Homo sapiens: one gene and its partner. The protein of the gene in region 2 purifies or fractionates together with the protein of the main gene of each other region. This does not show direct contact. Each region holds a gene or a part of one and is shown on either strand. Other genes may lie near its edges.

What was found. The genes of interacting proteins can lie anywhere in the genome.
Region 1: the proteins of SLC30A10 (region 2) and CLCN6 purify together in Homo sapiens (affinity purification with mass spectrometry; one large-scale study listed by BioGRID and IntAct). This does not show direct contact.

The regions. Positions count from the first base shown.
Region 1 is NC_000001.11:11,833,691-11,837,582, reverse strand, and holds part of CLCN6 (H(+)/Cl(-) exchange transporter 6), read right to left. Parts: intron 3,707-3,892; coding exon 3,553-3,706; intron 3,348-3,552; coding exon 3,188-3,347; intron 3,100-3,187; coding exon 2,993-3,099; intron 1,617-2,992; coding exon 1,430-1,616; intron 585-1,429; coding exon 427-584; intron 241-426; coding exon 84-240; intron 1-83. UniProt on the Homo sapiens protein: Voltage-gated channel mediating the exchange of chloride ions against protons. Functions as antiporter and contributes to the acidification of the late endosome lumen.
Region 2 is NC_000001.11:219,918,216-219,922,499, forward strand, and holds part of SLC30A10 (calcium/manganese antiporter SLC30A10), read right to left. Parts: intron 280-4,284; coding exon 40-279; intron 1-39. UniProt on the Homo sapiens protein: Calcium:manganese antiporter of the plasma membrane mediating the efflux of intracellular manganese coupled to an active extracellular calcium exchange.

The DNA.
Region 1 (3,892 bases), about 210 Mb from region 2:
CTGTTCACGGCCCGCCGGCAGCGCCCAACCCCTCGAGCTTCGTCAGGTCTGGCCTGGCTGATTTCTGCCTCGGAGAGACTTACCGACTGGCTTTCAGAGTAACAAACTCCTCGGACAAGCAGGGTGACAAGCTGCGACCGAAGGATCAGGCCGTGGAAGGTCAGAGGGCGGAACCGCTCCTCCATGGTCCAGTCTTCACTTGGGGACTGGTCAGGGTATAGGTTGGGGTAGGGAGTGTATCTGTTACACAAAAACCAGATGCTGCCTGGGATACCCTCAGCGGGAGCGCTTCTGATCCATGTTCCCAGCCCGCTCCCCATCCAACTTTCCCAGGAAACTCAGGAGCCACCTCACAACATCTGAGCCAAAGGCTCACCCCACCGCTGTGTAGCCCTGCGGGCAGTGGGGGCCCCGCCAGGCTCTCACCTCCTTTCCAGCATCTGCTGCAGGAGGTCCTCCTTCTCGGCTGGCTCCTCAGAGGCGATGTGCTCATCACACATGTTCCGTAGCTCGCTGGATGGGTAGGACTTCATGGACTGGCTCCGTTTGCGCTGCTCGCCAGCCCGGGTGAGGATGCTGGATTTCTGTGGGTGGGGAGGCCACAGGCTACTGCGCATGGGCAAACGAACACAGCAGTACTGATGGAGCTTAAGGATTTGGGTGACAGGGAGGGTCAGAAGCACATCCGGACGCAGGAACTTAATGGGGCTGAGGTTCAAAAGAGTGGCTCAGGCTGGTGGTTCAAATGAGCCTGAACCCTAGGACCTGGCTGCAGCTTCTGTGGTTTCCTTTAATCTGGGAAGAGCAGCTTGATTCTCCAGAGGGGAACAAGCCATCTCCTACATCCTGTCTTGATAGAATTTTCAATCAACGTGCCTGCCCCCAAAGCCAAGGAGTGGCACATGACCCAAGTGAGGCAACAGGATACCCCCTCTCCCTGGATTCTGAATCGGAATCAGGAGGAACCCAGGGCCAGTGCTCCTTCCTCCTGGTACCCAAGGGATGTCTGCTAGACCCTGCACTGCTCCCCACAGCACATGGTTCTGGTCCTTCAGCTTTCCCAGCTGTCCTGAGCTTTCCTGTGGATTTCTTTCTCTTTCTTAAGGAGGTCGAAGTCCATTTCTGTTGCTGGCATCTCTAGAACTCTCCCTGATACTCTCACATGGTAAACAAACCATGAAAGCTGCTGACTTGAAAAACAGATCTGTCCACATGCTCATTGCGGCAAGAACGCACACACATCTTCACGGCCTGATAAAGCTGCCCCTGCTGTCAAATCTACTCTCCCTGTCGCATGTGATGAGAACAGTGCCAACTTCCCCTGAGAGCCGGTAAGTCCACCCCAGCCAGGGGTGGGCAAAGCACTAAGCCGTGTGAGACGGGACCGCTTGTCTCTCACCTGCCTTTCCTCTCATGCCGTTTTCTTTACCTTGAACTTGATGTTGTTGCTGATGAGCTGGTTGCCCTTCATGAACTCCTTCTCGTTACCGCGGTTCTCTGTGACCACCGGGAAGGCATGGTGGACCGTGGTGCGCAGGATGCTCACCAGAGACTGGATGCGGGTGTGCGGGTAGACGTAGGTCAGGTTGGGCTCCATGATGTCGCTGGCTCTCAGCCTGGGGGAGGAGGGCAAGTCATCCAGCCTCATGACAGTGCCCGCAGGCCCCTGGGAGCAAGCTGTGCTGGCTCTCCAGCCCTGCTCAGACCACGGGCGGGGTGGGGGGCTCTTCTGAACTGCCCCAGCTCTCCCTCAAACCCGATGCATTCCTTTGTACTTCTATCCCCCGACACATGCTGTTCCCGCACCTGGAATGTCGTACCCTGCTGTACCAGGCTGATGGGCTCGGGCTCATCCCTCAGCTCAACAGCAACATCCCCTCACCAGGAAGCCCTGGCTGCTGGTCCAGGGGCTGGCCACGCCCTCCTCGGTGCCCTGCAGCACGCTCCACATACTACCCCTGAACTGCTAATTCTGCTACAGCATTTACCACAACTGGGTAAATGGGTGGGCTGGGTGCAGCGGCTCACGCATGTAATCCCAGCACTTTGGGAGGCCGAGGCCAGCAGATTGCTTGAGCCCAGGAGTTCAAAACCAGCCTGGGCAACACAGCAAAACCCCATTTCTATAAAAAAAATGTTAAAAATTAGCCAGGTGTGGTGGCACGCGCCTGTGATCCCAGCTACTCAGGAGGCTGAGGTGGAGGATCGCTTGAGCCTGGGAGGCATAGGTTGCAGTGAGCTATAATCATGCCACCCTACTCCAGCCTAGGCGACAGAGTGAGATCCTGTCCCAAAAAAGAAAAACAATAATAATAAAATAAACACAGCACTTGGGTCCCCCTTTAGATCAGGGCACAGCAAACTGTAGCCCACTGATCAAGTCCGTCACGCTTACTGCTTTCCTGCTGCAATGACAGAGTCGAGTAGTCGTGACAGAGACCATACAGCCCGGAAAGTTGAAAATAAACTCCTGTCTGGCCCTCCACAGAAACGGCTTGCTGGCCCCCGTGTTAGCCCGTAAGGGCCTTGCCTGCTATCTAGACACAGGAAGCCCAGGTACCTGTGGATTAGCAGGTGGGTTATGAGGTGATTATGCCCAGAACAATCCCGGCTGGCAGTAGGGCATTCTGGTGGGCACATGTGAAACAGGCTATTCTCACTCCTGGGGCTTGGCATACCCTTAAACATTCAATCACATCACGAACTTGATCCAGAGACCTCACCTCATATCTAACCAGAATGCCATGGGAGTCAAACCACCACGAAGAGGCCCTGCCCACTGCAGTCCCACAGTGCCCGTGTCCCCTGCCCTGCCCCCGCAGCCCCCAGCCCATGGGCTGCTCCACATTCTCACACATGCTCAGGAATGGGTGTGTTGCTTCTTTCAGCCCAAGAAAAGTGAGTTACTGTTTCCTACCCTAATAACAACATTCCTTAGGCCTCAGAGCTTATACATTCTGAAACTAGGACATGAGCAAAATCATGGCCTTACTTGTCCATTTCCACCTCTGTCTCCCATTCCAGAAGCGGCACGCCTCGCAGGCCCACGTGGATATCATAAATGCCCTTATTGAAAAAGTCCCCTGTCCATTTGGCCACCTGAAACACAAAGCAAAGACCTAAAAATAGGTCCTGTGGGGCGGACGTGGCCCTGAGCCTGACAGGGGCCTGGAGGGAGTGTGCTCACCATCAGTGTGACCATGATGGGGAGCCCGTAGGTGATCTCATTGGTGGACTCGATCAGGATGACCGTGAGGCTGATGGTCATGCGGACCACCCCGCCCAAGAAAGCCGCTGCACCAATCAGGGCAAAGGTCCCCGAATAGATGTGGCCCAATCCAATGTAGCTAGTGAAGGAAAACACCGAGAACATGGCTTTGAACCACACTGATAGGCTGTGGGGAGGACCTACAGCTCATACTCTTGTGCCTATGCACATATGTGCATGCATGGGCACAGACACATCAACGCACGCACACGCACACACATGCATACACACGCACACGTGCACACACATGCACATGCGCACACACACGCACACACACAGAGTACCTTTTTAGGACATTGGCAACTAAACGTCCAAAAGCAGCTCCACACAGCAGAGAAGGCACAAAAAGGCCACTTGGAACAGAAATGCCGTAAGTCCAACATGCAAGCAAGAAATAGAGAACGAAGAACAAGGCCAGAGTGACGGGGCTGAAAGTACCTGCAAGGGAAGAGCCAACCTGAGTCCCACTACCGGATGCCTGCCAAGGCCCAGTAGACCTACCGGGCCCGACCACACCCCATACCAGTTCCCCTTCCAACACAGGAGGCAGAAACCAATCTTTTGTCTGGGTGGGCGTTACAAAGAAGTCCTGGTCTTGCTTGGAATGAAGGGCAAGCCTGGCTG
Region 2 (4,284 bases):
AATTGAGAGTGGTTCTGGATCAAAATTCAGTCTACTTACTCAGCTCTTCCATGTTGACTCCTTTTGGGACCATCTGTAGCAGAATGGCAGCGGTCTCCTTGATAAGCGGGAAGGCAGATGACAAAATGATGATGACCATGAGGACAGTCAGGCTGGGGTCAATGTAACACTGCCAGTTACACGGGTCCTCACTCTTCAGGGGAAGCACATAGAATATGATGGCCGTGATGACCACAACCACGGACCCCAGGGCATCTCCCATCACATGCAAAAGTACACCTGCCAGGAAGAAAGACTACTGCAGCACAGATGCAAATCTGGAAGCCACGTGACACTCACTGACTTGGGTGTCCGGGTATATGAATATCTGTTACCATTTGGAGTTTTTTGGTTTTTGTTTTGGTTAGAACAGTAGGATGAATCAAAATAATGGCAACTACTTCTTAGGAAACAAAACCCCAGGCCACCATCGCAGGACTCAGAGTACCTTGGAAGAGCAACAGCCTAGGAAGATTCTGACCTGCAGGAAGAGCGACTGTGCCGTCTCACTGGGCCACATCGCTACCACTCACCACCCATCAAAGGGCACCAAGCTGGAAAACAGGGGCTGTGCAAATGATTTCTTTTTCTTTCAGACAATCATCTGTGCTTTACGTTGTTTTAAACATGTTTAAGGGGAGAGAGAACAAGTTGTATTAAGAGTGTTTAAAACAAATTGTCTTTTTTCTACCTTGATCCACTTTCCCCTTTCCCTGTAAGCATTTACCTACTTTGTATTTAGTCTGTGGTCATTTAAATGGCATTTGGTTTAAGAGGTGTCCAAGAACAGGGACTCTGGCAACATTTCCATTGCATAAAGAGCCATTTATCACAATAAAATAAAATTAAAATTCTACAGATAATACTAAAAATTGTGGGTGCCTTTAATTAAGGGAATTGTTTCTAAAGATATTGATTATGATATAGAACACATGCATTCCTCAGCAAAGATTTGAGTGCCCAATTGTTAGCCAAAGACTAAATTGGGATTCAGTAAGTAAATTAGGTAAAAATTTGGTCAGAAAAATTATAAAATATAAACACAAAGTTTTGGGTTTTGGTTTTGGGGGATTTTGTTTGTTTTTTACAAAAAGCAACATCTGAATCTTGCAATTCAAAGTATAGTTTGCAAACCAGCAGCATCAGCATCACCTAGGAGGTTGTTAGAAATGATGCATCTCAGGACCCACCTCAGATCTGTAGAATCTGAACCTGCGTTTTAAAAAGATGCCCAGGTGAGTCTGGGCGTGGTGGCTCACTCCTGTAATCCCAGCACTTTGGGAGGCCAAGGCAGGTAGATCATCTGAAGTCAGGAGTTCAAGACCAGCCTGGCCAATATGGTGAAACCCTATCTCTACTAAAAATACAAAAAATTAGCTGGACATTGTGGGGGCATCTGTAATCCCAGCTACTCAGAAGGCTGAGGCAGGAGAATCGCTTGAACCCAGGAGGCAGAGGTTGCAGTGAGCCGAGATAGTGCCATTGTACTCCAGCCTGGGCAACAAGAGTGAAACTCTGTCTCAAAAAAAAAAAAAAAAAATGCCCAGATGATTGGAATGCACATACAAGTTTCCAAAGCACTGCTCTAGAAGAAAGCATATATATTAAGAAAGGTCTGCTTTGTCTCTCCATGTATTCCACAGACTTATGCAGTAGAATTAATAATAATCCAAATTACTAACAACTTACTCATGGCTAAGACTAAACAGTCTCATTTGGAAGGTGCTTTAATTGAGCTAATTCCTCCTCTTGGCAACAACTCCACAATTCTAAATAACATCATAGGTAAAATGGCATGTGAACACTAAATGTAATTTGAGGCAGTTGCCTCAAATTTTCCCCAAAAAAATACAGGAATAAAAAGAATTCCCATATTTCCTTTTGGATGAGTGTTTACTTATGATAATAAGATCTTGATTCAATATATACATTAACATTCTCATTTTCTAATGCTGTGCTCCTTTCTCCCAACACCCCACCCCCAAAGGAGCTTTTAACTCCCCAGTCCCTGTCCTGAACCACTGAAGGGAAACTCAAAAATACTTTGTTCCTCTACAAGGAGCTAAGAATCGAAGCTTTAACTTGCTTCAGGACAGTACAAAATGCTACCATAAAAATATGAAAGCCTAATATCTCCTATACACATGTGATGTCATGTTTACTGCGTGAGACAGTCTGTTATTCTCTGATTGTCTCATACATGTTAGGTCCATTTCCTCCGTAAGTAACATGAGGATCAGGGCCATACTCCAAATTGCCTTTGTTTATATAATAGCAATGTAGGCATTCAATAAAACAGTAGCTTCTGGTTGATTGTCATAACTCCTATGACATACAGTAACTCTTGTCTTTAATAATAATAACTATTATTATTATTATGCTAACTAACACATATGCTCCAGGTATTGATTTAAGCGTATTATACTTACCCATTAAGTCCTTTTAAGGACTGTAAGGTGGTTACCCTTGTAAAAATAAGTAATGCAAAATCTAAGCTGTTGGAACTCAAAAGTATTTTGAGCCTTCAAGGAATGTGAATTACAGGGCCTGAGCTACGTGACAGGCAGCTGTAAGCTGTTGTATGTCTGAATTCAGTCTTTTTCCTTACCTGCATTGCTCTGTAAAATGTTGTAAATGGCAAAGGGCCCCAGGGAAGACCCCCTTCTCTCTTCCTGTTGATTTTCATTCTCCCTCTTACCTTTTTCATACAAGACATCATGGCTATCACAGTCCCTTAATATGGAATGTTAAATACACTCTTTTAAGTTGGAAAGGAAATGAAAACCAGCTATAAAGAAAACAAGCCGCGTGGAAAAGAAAACAAATTGTAACTAATTTTTTTAACTACTAAACCAGGCTTGTATACAAAATGTTGTAACCCTGCTAAATTTCTTTGTCTTATATATAAGCAAGAATTTAGCTTTTAACTTTGGAACCCTATCCCCATTTCTCTGGAGTGATGAGTCCCGGAATGGCCATTGCCAACTTTTCACTTGAATAAACTCTGGAAAACTGGAATCTGACCCTTTTGATTATTTATGGCTGGTACTCTCTTCATTTTACAAATGAGGAAACTGAGGCACAGAATACATAAGTAACTTGTCCAAAATCACACAACTAAAAAGTGTTAACTGGGGATATCAATCTGGGTGGTCTGACCAGAGATCTACTGTGCATCCTGCCTCATGTAAGTTCTAAAATTCAATTTCAGCTTTTCCTTCTGAGAAATCCCACTATTACCCCCTAAGAATTACATAAAATAGTAACTTTTGAACTTGTTTTTCCCATAATCCACAGTAAGAATTATGTTTTGCATCCTAGCACAGAGATACAAATTGCAACAAATAATTCATGGGAAAGCAAAACTCATCCTTATATATGACTTCTTAATATTATCTATTCTATTTCATTCAATTATAATTAATTTTCTACTAAACTAATTCTAGGGCCCAAATTGTCGCAGCCTTCAGTTTGAAAAACTGTTTAAAGCAGTATCCCACTCAATTCCTGACATTTAATAATGCAATGTATCTTCTGGCTGCCCATGCAAAGATGAAGAAGGCCTGGTCATGACCATTAACTACAGTGCACTGGCAAAATTCTGTGGGGTGTCTCTGAGTGTGTGTGTGTGTGTGTGTGTGTGTGTGTGTGAAAGAGAGAGAGAGACAGAGAGAGAGAGAGAGAGAGAGACCGAGAGAGAGAGACAGAGAGAGAGAAAAAATGGGGTCTCCCTCTGTCACCCAGGCTGGAGTACAGTGGCACAATCATAGCTCACTCCAACTTCGAACTCTTGGGCTCAAATGATCCTTCCATCTCAGCCTCCCAAGTATCTAGGACTACAGATGTGTGCCACTGCACTGGTTAATTTTTTTACTTTTTAAAAGAATTTTTTTACCTTCTTGTTTGTGTGTGTGTGTGTGTGTTTTTTTTTTTTTTTTTTTTTTTTTTTTTTTTTTTTTTTTTTTTTTTTTTTTTTTGCAGAGACAGGGGTTTGCTATGTTACCCGGGCTGGTCTCAAACTCCTGGCCTCAAGTAATCCTCTTGCCTCAGCCTCTCAAAATGGAAGATTCTGAGATAAATACATCGATAATCTCCTCAGGGAGGAAAAGAGTCTCCTGTGATGAGACATCTCAGGAAAGTCTTGTTGAGAGGTAGGTAATTTGGGCAGGACTCTGGAGAGGAGACAGACTTCAACAGGCAACCACAGGAGAAGGCATTTCAGACAGAAACACCTCACGGGAGACT